Homo sapiens: one gene and its partners. The protein of the gene in region 1 interacts with the protein of each later gene in a pairwise test. Each region holds a gene or a part of one and is shown on either strand. Other genes may lie near its edges. The genes, in order: ATRIP, FAM156B and SCG2.

Evidence for each region.
Region 2: the proteins of ATRIP (region 1) and FAM156B interact in binary tests that used the Homo sapiens proteins (3 or more experiments, as listed by UniProt).
Region 3: the proteins of ATRIP (region 1) and SCG2 interact in binary tests that used the Homo sapiens proteins (3 or more experiments, as listed by UniProt).

What each region holds. Positions count from the first base shown.
Region 1 is NC_000003.12:48,463,604-48,467,353, reverse strand, and holds part of ATRIP (ATR-interacting protein), read right to left. Parts: intron 3,610-3,750; coding exon 3,473-3,609; intron 3,314-3,472; coding exon 3,222-3,313; intron 2,773-3,221; coding exon 2,692-2,772; intron 2,524-2,691; coding exon 2,271-2,523; intron 1,868-2,270; coding exon 1,800-1,867; 3' UTR 699-1,799; coding exon of another isoform or gene 1-698. Other genes in the region: TREX1 (three-prime repair exonuclease 1), read right to left, coding at 1-698. UniProt on the Homo sapiens protein: Required for checkpoint signaling after DNA damage. Required for ATR expression, possibly by stabilizing the protein.
Region 2 is NC_000023.11:52,895,593-52,899,342, forward strand, and holds the start of FAM156B (protein FAM156A/FAM156B), read left to right. Parts: upstream 1-1,737; 5' UTR 1,738-3,750.
Region 3 is NC_000002.12:223,596,293-223,599,364, reverse strand, and holds the end of SCG2 (secretogranin-2 precursor), read left to right. Parts: intron 1-68; 5' UTR 69-82; coding exon 83-1,936; 3' UTR 1,937-2,425; downstream 2,426-3,072. UniProt on the Homo sapiens protein: Neuroendocrine protein of the granin family that regulates the biogenesis of secretory granules.

The DNA of each region.
Region 1 (3,750 bases):
TACATGGGCCTGATGGTGCCGAAAGGCCTGGCGTGAGCATCCACCCACCGCAGCAGGGCCTGTGGTCTCCACTGACAGATGCTGAGCAGGGCCAGGACATCACCCTCAGCCGTGTGCGAGTCTGGAGGGGACTGCCCATACAGGCGAGTGTAGATGCTGCCTAGGCTATAGCTCTTCCTTGGGCCGTGTTCTGAGGGGCTGCTTGCTCGCTCCAGGGCCTTCAGCGCAGTGATGCTATCCACACAGAAGGCACCATCCAGAGCACTGGTGAGGCCCAGCATAGCCAGCTCTGCTTGGAGCAGGGGGAAGTCGTAGCGGTCACCATTGTGTGCCACCAGGCACCAGGGCTGTGGCTGGCGCCGCAGGAAGGCTAGGAGCAGGTTGGCCAGGTTGTCATCAAAACATTGACGCCCATGCGCTGCCAGCACAGCTGTGCTCAGACCTGTGATCTCGCTGGCTGCAGGGCTGCAGGCCTTCCCCGGAGCCACACACAGGGAGAGCTTGTCTACCACACGCGGTGGTGGAGGAACTGTGGGAGGTGGCCCCTGAGAGGTGGGGGGGCTCTCCAGGGCACATCTGTGGACAGCCAGCAGGCACAGCTCCGTGACCTTGGGCTGGGAGAAGGGCAAGCCAGTGGCCTCCATGTCGAAAAAGATGAGGGTCTGCATGGGCCCCGGGGGCAGGGCCTGCGAGCCCATGGTTGGGTACGTACCTGCTGCTGAGCCTGGAGAGGAGCATGGGGTGGGTGTGTGAGTGCCCAGTGTTAAGATCCGAAGGGGAGGGAGTGGGGTAGGGGGTGGGCAGAAGCACATCTCAGGCCTTCCCTGCACAATCCTGCCCTGTCTGCGAGCTCCAGGGCCCATTTTCAGGCAGGAAGTTGGAGAGGGTGAGGTGGTTTCCTTAGTGGGACCAGCACATTCGACTGTCTGAGAGGGTCTCCCTCTTCACATGACTCGGCCCCTCCCCTAGTGCCCCCTTAGTCTGGGGTGGGGGAACCCATGGCCCTCCTGCCCTGCGCCATCCCATTGTGGGGGCCACACTCACCGTAGCAGGCAGGCAGGCAGGCAGTAGTGACTCGGCTGCACACTCTCCCGCGGCTCTCGCTGGCAGCAGTGGCGGGAAGTGAAACTTGGCGTGGGCCCGCCTACAGGCCCACGTGAGCCAGGCCCGCCCTGCTCGTCAGCCTGCCTGGTCTGTCCCTCTCACCACCATCCGTTCCCCCCCACACCCACTCCCCTGCTCCCGGGGGACCCCAGAGGCCTTCCAAGATCCACAGCTGTGGCCTGCTGGTGGCACAATGCACCGGGGCCATCATACCAGTGACAGGCAGCTGGAAGGACCAGGGCAGTGGTGCCAGACCAGCTCCCGGTCTTACACACTGCTGGGAGCCCCTGCTGCGGCCCTTTCATGCCCACCTGTGGGTCCCAGTTTCCCAGGCTTTCCTGGTTTAGGCCTGGGCCAAGAGCCACCTCCTTCCCTGCCACACAATGGTTTCTTCCCATGGCCCCAGCCCAAAGCAATGACTCAGGACAATTCCACAGGCAGGGCAGGGCTCCTTCCTCAAGGCAGATCAGTTACCATGGGGACGGGCTCAGCAACAGCCAGGGACAGGAAGAAGGATCCCAGCCACTCAGGGTCCGGGTCCTGCTCCACCCCTCCCACTCCGCCAAACAGATCAGACTCAGGAAACAAGGCCAGCCAGTTCTCTGGGCAGTTCCTGCTGGTCACTGCTTTAATCAGTTGATGTGGTAAGGAAAGGAGTGGTGCTGGTGCCACCATGTGGCTGGACACTCAGGGCCTCAGCCACACTCCACCTCGGGGTCTTCCACATCGGTTTCCGCGGCACAGAGGTCATCCAGGGCTGCCTCTGAGACAAAAAGGAGAGGTTCCTGGTGAGGGCCCAAAGGTGCCAGGGCCTAGGGCAGGTCCCACCTCTCCTCCCCCAACGTCCGCAGGAACTAACCAGTCCCTTCCACACCCAGGCCCTGCTCCCTCAGCTACTGCAAACAAAGTGATACAAAGGCAATTCAGACACGGCTATTTCTGGAAAAACCGTGGCTCTGCCAGGCACACTCAACAGATAGATGCAAAAGGCATCCCAATATGCTTGGAGAAGAACTGAGGCAGGAAGATAAAAGAAAATGGCCCCAGTGCTGGAACAGGCTGCAGTGGGCGGGGGCCTGCTGAGGGGACACCCAGGAATCTGACTTGTTGGGGAACCTCTGGAAGAAGCCATGGGGGCTGGGCAGGATGGCCTCTGGCAGGCTTACCTTCACAGTCCGTCACATCAGGAAGCCCTCGGATGAGCATGCTGACCCCCGGCATCACCTGGTCAAACTGATGCAGGACCTCCACGCAGTGCATCATGAAGAGCTTGTCCTTCTGCGATAGGCCGTGCAGCAGCAGCACCGTGTCCCGCAGACAGCGCACTGTCCGCCTCTGCTGGTCGGTCCTTGGGGGTCCCCCTGCCCTCCGCACTGTCAGCCACTGTCTGTGCAACATCACCGTGAGCGCTCTGACCACCTGAGAGAGGGGGGGTGCAGACTGAGGCCTGGTGCCACCATGGCCTGCACCCTAACAATCCGCTCAGCCTAGCCACCTCACGTGAGGGGGTTTGCAGTGGGGCCTACAGTCCTTGCACGGGGCCCCCTTACCACCAGAGCTGCCAGCTGTTGGCCCCTACCCACTCACCTCCACATTACACTGGCAGTTGGAGCCAGTGACTGGGGGCAAGGGGCTCTGCACACCAAGCTTAGCCAGGAGCCACACCACCTAGAACAAGAACAGATTGGTTCCATCCTGGGCAGAAGGAGACCAGTCCCTGCGAGGGTTTTCTTAAGCTTCTATAAGAGTTCACTTGCTTCAGCAACTGTTTGTCTGCACAAATGGGGTCCAAGAAGTGGTGTGGGACCTTCCCAGGGAAGACCCAGGACAAGCACTCATGTGTCACCAGCAACCCACCTGCCTCCAGCCCCCTATTCTGCCCCCACGTCCCAAAGCCAAGACAGGATCAGTCATCAGGCAACTCTGCCAAGTCCTGTCTGCATTGCATCTGTGTGGTGCACAGCCCCCAAACTGAGTTTACCTCTTTAGTTGCTTTATCAACTCTTGTTACTAAAATGAATTAAAGCTCCGTTTCTCCTCAGCGGAAAGAAAGGAGATTCTGTTGGTTCTTAGGATGGGGTGGGGACAGTGTCCAGAAGGGGCTCTGGAGTTTTTACCTCTTGTTCCAGCTGGAGCCATTGTGTCTCCAAGGCCACTCTGTCAGGCCGTGATGTGATGTACATGTACAGCAGCAGCAGGAGGCAGCCTTCTGAAAAGGACAGCGCACCTCTCACTCAGGGTGCCCTTTCTCATAAAGAGCGTGGGCTACATACTGCAGAAGCCCTCTGAGGCCCTTGACCCTGTTCCCACCCCAACCCTTCCCTTGATCTGCAGGAGCAGTCTAGACGCCCGCCCCACCCTGCTTTACCTGAGTGGGAACAGAGCTGAGGTGCCAGCTGGTCGTGGTCCGCCAGCAGGGAGAGGAGCTCAACAGCCAGCAGCACGCTAGGCAGGGGTGTCTCTGGGCTGAGGCACTTTGGCAGCACTTGGAACACACACTGGAACCTAAAAGACAGGGACCCAGAGAGACGTGACACTCCCCAACCCCAGCTCCATAACCTACCTTCACACTCCACTAGAGGTAACAGAAAATTGAGCAAGTCAGTATGAACAGGTGAGTTGGTTCAGCCAGACTTGGGTTTCAGT
Region 2 (3,750 bases), on another chromosome or scaffold:
ATTTATTTCTTGTACGACTTTGGGGAGGTTACTTAATCTCTTTGTGGCTCAGTTACTTCATTTGTAAAATGAAATGATAATATTCTGGGAGAATGGTTCATGTTTCCTTCCTTCATAAACTGCTGTTCACGAGGCGGCTTCTTCCAGGGTTAAAAAGGAATCTACTATCCATGTATCTGCTAGGACAGACATTGTTGCGTGTCACTTGACTCCTGAAATACGCCACGGTAAAGAAATCTCTGTACACTTTCGTGTTCTGGGAAGTCACTGACCACACAGGACCAATTATTCTCCATGAGACTTAGATAAGGGATGCTGTCTTCCCACTCTGTGCCGTGACTCCCAGATGGCAGACACCACCAGTCCTTGTTCTTTTGTCTCATGAATGTGTTGTAACCAAGCGAGTTATAGAGAAACGCCACACTTTTGAGACAAATTAAGGGGACCTTTATTAGCTGGCGACCTACAGGCAGCTAACGCTCAAAATTCTCTCGGCCCCAAGGAAGGGGCTAGTTTTGTTTTTATACCGTGGTCTAAACAGGGGAGGGGGGAGTTTAGCTGAAGCAATTTTACAGAAGCAGAATAGGCAAAAAGTTAAAAAAAATTAATTGGTTATAGAAGCAGTTACAAAAAATAAACAGTTCCAGGTGCAGGGGCTTAAACTATGATTAAGAGATAAATGCAGGGGCTTTTAGGTACCTTCCACCGAGCACATTCCCGAGCTGTTGGTACAGCCTGCCTCAATATCTTACCAGCAGGTGTATTCTTGGATGTGCTTGGACTCAGCTTGCACTAGTTATTCCCTTAAGGGGGATAAAGGGGGCTGCAAGTGAAGAAACTAAAATGGAGTCTGTCCGGCTCTCTCTGCTAGGAAAGAGTCACTCAGGTTAAAACAAGGTAGGGTATCACAAATGATTCACTTAGACGGGAAGTCTGTCCTCCTAAAAGTAGCTAGGCACAGAGAGAAACATTCCCTGTTCAGCTGGCTGAGACTTCCGCTGATTAAAAAAAAAACAAAAAACCCTGCCCCATAAATCTCCCCACTGAAACCGGTGTACTCCTTCCTATGAAAGTAAAAGACACCCCCGCCCCGCCCCGGTTACCCCAACAGTGTGATTTCCACTTCTGGGGCGCTCTCCCTAAGGCAGTAGCCTGAATAATTTCAATGTATTGGATTGTTTGGTTTCTGTCTTTACCAAGGTGCATTTATCATTCATGCAAAAACAGTAAAAAAAAAAAAAAAAAAAAAAAAAAAAATGAAACAGCACGTGTCGGTTCTCAGCGGCGCGCCCTAGCTCAAAACTCCAGCCAATCACAGGAGAAGTCGGCCGCCTCCCAACCCTCCAGCCCAGTTCCCACGTCCCTCGCCCGGGAAGTCACGTCCGCTACAGGGAGTGTCTTCCCATGGCCTCCGGAAGCATTCGGCAGTCCACAAGCCACGCTTCAGAGAAGCCGCTCCGGGAACGCCGCGGCGCACCTCCGGAAGGGATGACCTCCACGCCTTCTCCCCTCGCAGTCCACCCGAGCGGCGTGGGTCGCGAGAAGCCACCCAACCGCTCCGTCTTCCGGCTCCGGCGGTCCGCGGCAGCCAATCAAAGGTTCAGTTTCTCAGCGGCGTCGCATCCCTGTGACGTGAGCACATCCTCGCCGGCGCCCCCTTCCGCGCTGCGGCGCCTCTAGCCCGCCGGAGGGCGGCTCCTCTCGATGGTCTTAACCCTTCAATTACGAGCGGGCGGCGCTGCGTTTCCAGGGCAGAGGAAACGAGGCGCCGCGTTGGCGCTTGGACGGCGGGAACCGGCTCCGGAGCGAGAACGCGCGTGAGAGAGCCCGAGAGAGACGGAGAGCGAGCGAGCGCGCGGGAGAGACTGAGAGCGGGGGGGTGGGAGAGAGACTTCCAGAGAGACAGAGCGAGAGGCCGAGACGGAGGCTGTCCCTAGCACAGGCCAGGGTGTCTTGGGACTCGAATCCCTGGGTTGGGCTGGCCGGGAGTGGGGCTTTCGAAGGAAGCGGGTGATTTTCCACGTCGTCCATATCTCCCCGGTGTGGGAATGGCGGTCGTGCACTCTGGGGGTGGCGTTGTTCTCGTTCCCTACTTGGGGGTGGCCTTTTTCAGCGGAGAAAGAGGATGCCGCGGGCATTGGTAGCCGGCGGGACTACACTTGGGCTAGGATCAGTGTTCAGCGGGTTCAGAAATCACCGTGTCCTTGGCATCACCTCCCTCCCCACCTCCTCTCCCATCGCACAGCAGGAGACAGTGACTGGAGGGTTTTCAAGGAGGACTGCATTGCCCCTATTGAAACAAACCGTCCGACAAACCCTTTCTCCGACGTGTGACAGAGGGACGGTCGTAATGTGAAATACGACTAGACATGCGTTTAATGGGCGGTGTGATTGCTGCATTCGTGCGCAATGAATGGTCCAGGCCATTTGTGTCCAGTAGCCGCACAAGCTGCAGGGTCTCATGTTTAGAGAGGGAGGGCCTCTCCGCCGTCCACCTTGCTGGAGTACAGGCGACCCTGGGCGGTAGCCCTCTCCGCCATCAGAAATGTGGTGCTCTGAGTAGCCACAGATTCCCATCTGCATCTCCAATACCATTTCCCTCTACTCACTGACCCGTTGGGTGCGTTGGATTTGTGCGTGGGTGTGAGGGTAGTTTGGTGTGTTTGCTTGCAAATGGAAAAGCGAATGGCCTTGGTTGGCTGAGCTTATCAGGGCACTAGCAGTGGAGAGAGAAAGGACTACTGTATTCTTAGGAGCAGAATCTCAACAACTTCCTATAAAACGGGCAGTGTGTCTTACCTGGAATGCTTTGGCATTTAATAAAATGTCCTGTGAATACTTTTCATAGGGAAGCACTTTGTTTTTACTGTTTCTGGTTGGACAGTGGTTACATTTCAAATCGTAGTTCAGAATTCGTGAAATACCCAAATTAAATCTCTACGTGGCAGTAATCCATTTTCTTTCCTTGGTGTGTGGTTGGAAGATTAATTTGAGATAAGTGTTCAGTTCTGGGCTGGGCAGTCGTGCCGGGCACGGGAAATTCAGGTTCTTTAAGGGAAAGGCCTGATGTGCTAAGACGAAATCTATACCGTGTGTAGCCGCTTATGAGAATATGAAACTAAGGAGAGCCACAGGTAAGTATACGTCTATGAATGCGAATTAAAACGGGTGACAATATAAAGAGAGATTGGTGTCACAAATGGTGGAGTGACTTTTGTATTTCAGCAGACCTCAGTGAGAAATGGTCACCACCACTCCCTAGATGTGTGACCTTGAGTGAGTTGCTTAACCTCTCTGATCCTGTTACCTCATCTGCAACTGGGGATGAGAATATATATCATAGCATGCCCTGGGAGAAGCTGTTCCTGACCACCTGGGCTATGGTGATTTTGACTTCCTCTGTGTCAGAAGTACCCCCGTCTCATGCCTGCCATAGTTGTCTTTTTGTTTTGTTTTGTGATTTCAGATGGACTCACCCTGTCACCCAGGTTGGACTGCACTGGCCTCAACCTCCTGAGTTCAAGTGATCGTCCCACCTCAGCCTCCCCAGTAGCTGGGACCATAGCTGTGCAGCATCATGCCTGGCTAATTTTTTAAGTTTTTTGTTGAGATGGTGGTCTCGCCCTGTTGCTCAGGCTGGCCTCAAACTCCTGGGCTGAAGCAGTCCTCCCACCTCAGCCTCCCAAAGTGCTTGGATTAGAGGCGTGAGCCACCATTCCTGGCTCCTTGGACAATATTTTATTCCTCAGA
Region 3 (3,072 bases), on another chromosome or scaffold:
TTATTTCTTTTGCTATAGTGTCTTCTAGTTTGTTTCATTTGTGTAACTCATATTTTTTATGTTTTAAGGAAATCTTTCAAACATGGCTGAAGCAAAGACCCACTGGCTTGGAGCAGCCCTGTCTCTTATCCCTTTAATTTTCCTCATCTCTGGGGCTGAAGCAGCTTCATTTCAGAGAAACCAGCTGCTTCAGAAAGAACCAGACCTCAGGTTGGAAAATGTCCAAAAGTTTCCCAGTCCTGAAATGATCAGGGCTTTGGAGTACATAGAAAACCTCCGACAACAAGCTCATAAGGAAGAAAGCAGCCCAGATTATAATCCCTACCAAGGTGTCTCTGTCCCCCTTCAGCAAAAAGAAAATGGCGATGAAAGCCACTTGCCCGAGAGGGATTCACTGAGTGAAGAAGACTGGATGAGAATAATACTCGAAGCTTTGAGACAGGCTGAAAATGAGCCTCAGTCTGCACCAAAAGAAAATAAGCCCTATGCCTTGAATTCAGAAAAGAACTTTCCAATGGACATGAGTGATGATTATGAGACACAGCAGTGGCCAGAAAGAAAGCTTAAGCACATGCAATTCCCTCCTATGTATGAAGAGAATTCCAGGGATAACCCCTTTAAACGCACAAATGAAATAGTGGAGGAACAATATACTCCTCAAAGCCTTGCTACATTGGAATCTGTCTTCCAAGAGCTGGGGAAACTGACAGGACCAAACAACCAGAAACGTGAGAGGATGGATGAGGAGCAAAAACTTTATACGGATGATGAAGATGATATCTACAAGGCTAATAACATTGCCTATGAAGATGTGGTCGGGGGAGAAGACTGGAACCCAGTAGAGGAGAAAATAGAGAGTCAAACCCAGGAAGAGGTGAGAGACAGCAAAGAGAATATAGAAAAAAATGAACAAATCAACGATGAGATGAAACGCTCAGGGCAGCTTGGCATCCAGGAAGAAGATCTTCGGAAAGAGAGTAAAGACCAACTCTCAGATGATGTCTCCAAAGTAATTGCCTATTTGAAAAGGTTAGTAAATGCTGCAGGAAGTGGGAGGTTACAGAATGGGCAAAATGGGGAAAGGGCCACCAGGCTTTTTGAGAAACCTCTTGATTCTCAGTCTATTTATCAGCTGATTGAAATCTCAAGGAATTTACAGATACCCCCAGAAGACTTAATTGAGATGCTCAAAACTGGGGAGAAGCCGAATGGATCAGTGGAACCGGAGCGGGAGCTTGACCTTCCTGTTGACCTAGATGACATCTCAGAGGCTGACTTAGACCATCCAGACCTGTTCCAAAATAGGATGCTCTCCAAGAGTGGCTACCCTAAAACACCTGGTCGTGCTGGGACTGAGGCCCTACCAGACGGGCTCAGTGTTGAGGATATTTTAAATCTTTTAGGGATGGAGAGTGCAGCAAATCAGAAAACGTCGTATTTTCCCAATCCATATAACCAGGAGAAAGTTCTGCCAAGGCTCCCTTATGGTGCTGGAAGATCTAGATCGAACCAGCTTCCCAAAGCTGCCTGGATTCCACATGTTGAAAACAGACAGATGGCATATGAAAACCTGAACGACAAGGATCAAGAATTAGGTGAGTACTTGGCCAGGATGCTAGTTAAATACCCTGAGATCATTAATTCAAACCAAGTGAAGCGAGTTCCTGGTCAAGGCTCATCTGAAGATGACCTGCAGGAAGAGGAACAAATTGAGCAGGCCATCAAAGAGCATTTGAATCAAGGCAGCTCTCAGGAGACTGACAAGCTGGCCCCGGTGAGCAAAAGGTTCCCTGTGGGGCCCCCGAAGAATGATGATACCCCAAATAGGCAGTACTGGGATGAAGATCTGTTAATGAAAGTGCTGGAATACCTCAACCAAGAAAAGGCAGAAAAGGGAAGGGAGCATATTGCTAAGAGAGCAATGGAAAATATGTAAGCTGCTTTCATTAATTACCCTACTTTCATTCCTCCCACCCCAAGCAAATCCCAACATTTCTCTTCAGTGTGTTGACTTCTATCCTGTTAACACTGTAATATCTTTAAATGATGTACAGGCAGATGAAACCAGGTCACTGGGGAGTCTGCTTCATTTCCTCTGAGCTGTTATCTTGTGTATGGATATGTGTAAATGTTATGACTCCTTGATAAAAAATTTATTATGTCCATTATTCAAGAAAGATATCTATGACTGTGTTTAATAGTATATCTAATGGCTGTGGCATTGTTGATGCTCACATATGATAAAAAAGTGTCCTATAATTCTATTGAAAGTTTTTAATATTTATTGAATTATTTTGTTACTGTCTGTAGTGTTTTGTGGAGTACTGGACCAAAAAAATAAAGCATTATAAATATATAGTTTTATTTATAAGGCCTTTTCTATTGTGTGTTTTACTGTTGATTAATAAATGTTATTTCTGGACAACTTTGGACTCTTAATTATGGAAAACCAGAGACAATGTCTACGAAGCAAGCAGTATGAAGCCAAAAGAGAAAATCATCTTCACCAGACAATTCAGGTAAGAAGTAATGAATTTTATACATGTGTTCATGGTACCTGCTTGCAGAATGCTGCATCCTTATGCTTGCCCATGGTTTTCCTTATGCTTGCCCATGGTTTTCCTCAAATATATAATCGATAGAGTCTTTGTTTTAGGTATTTTTTACTCTTGATTTATATAAGTAAAAGAAATTTAAGTCTCCAATACCCATAGGCAGCCATCAAAACAAAAACAGAAAGAAAAAGAAAAGGCTGCATAGATGGCAATCAAAAATGACTACAGACTTGAAAGGAACTTGTCTATTCCCAGGTCATGTTGGTCCCCAAAAGACAAGGCTGTTGCCTCCCTTATGTGACTTGAGAGGGGCCAAAGGACCCCCAAACTGACCATTAGGTAAGTGAAGAAGCACAGTAGCAGTGGGAACAACCAGCCCCATCTTCTGCCCTAGTGGGCAAAGAAGTGCATGGTTATTACAGCGCACATCACTTTAGTGCAATGTCAGCCACCTAACACATCAACAGAGAATCAACACAACATCAGCAAGAAAATGCACAGAGCAACAAAACAATAA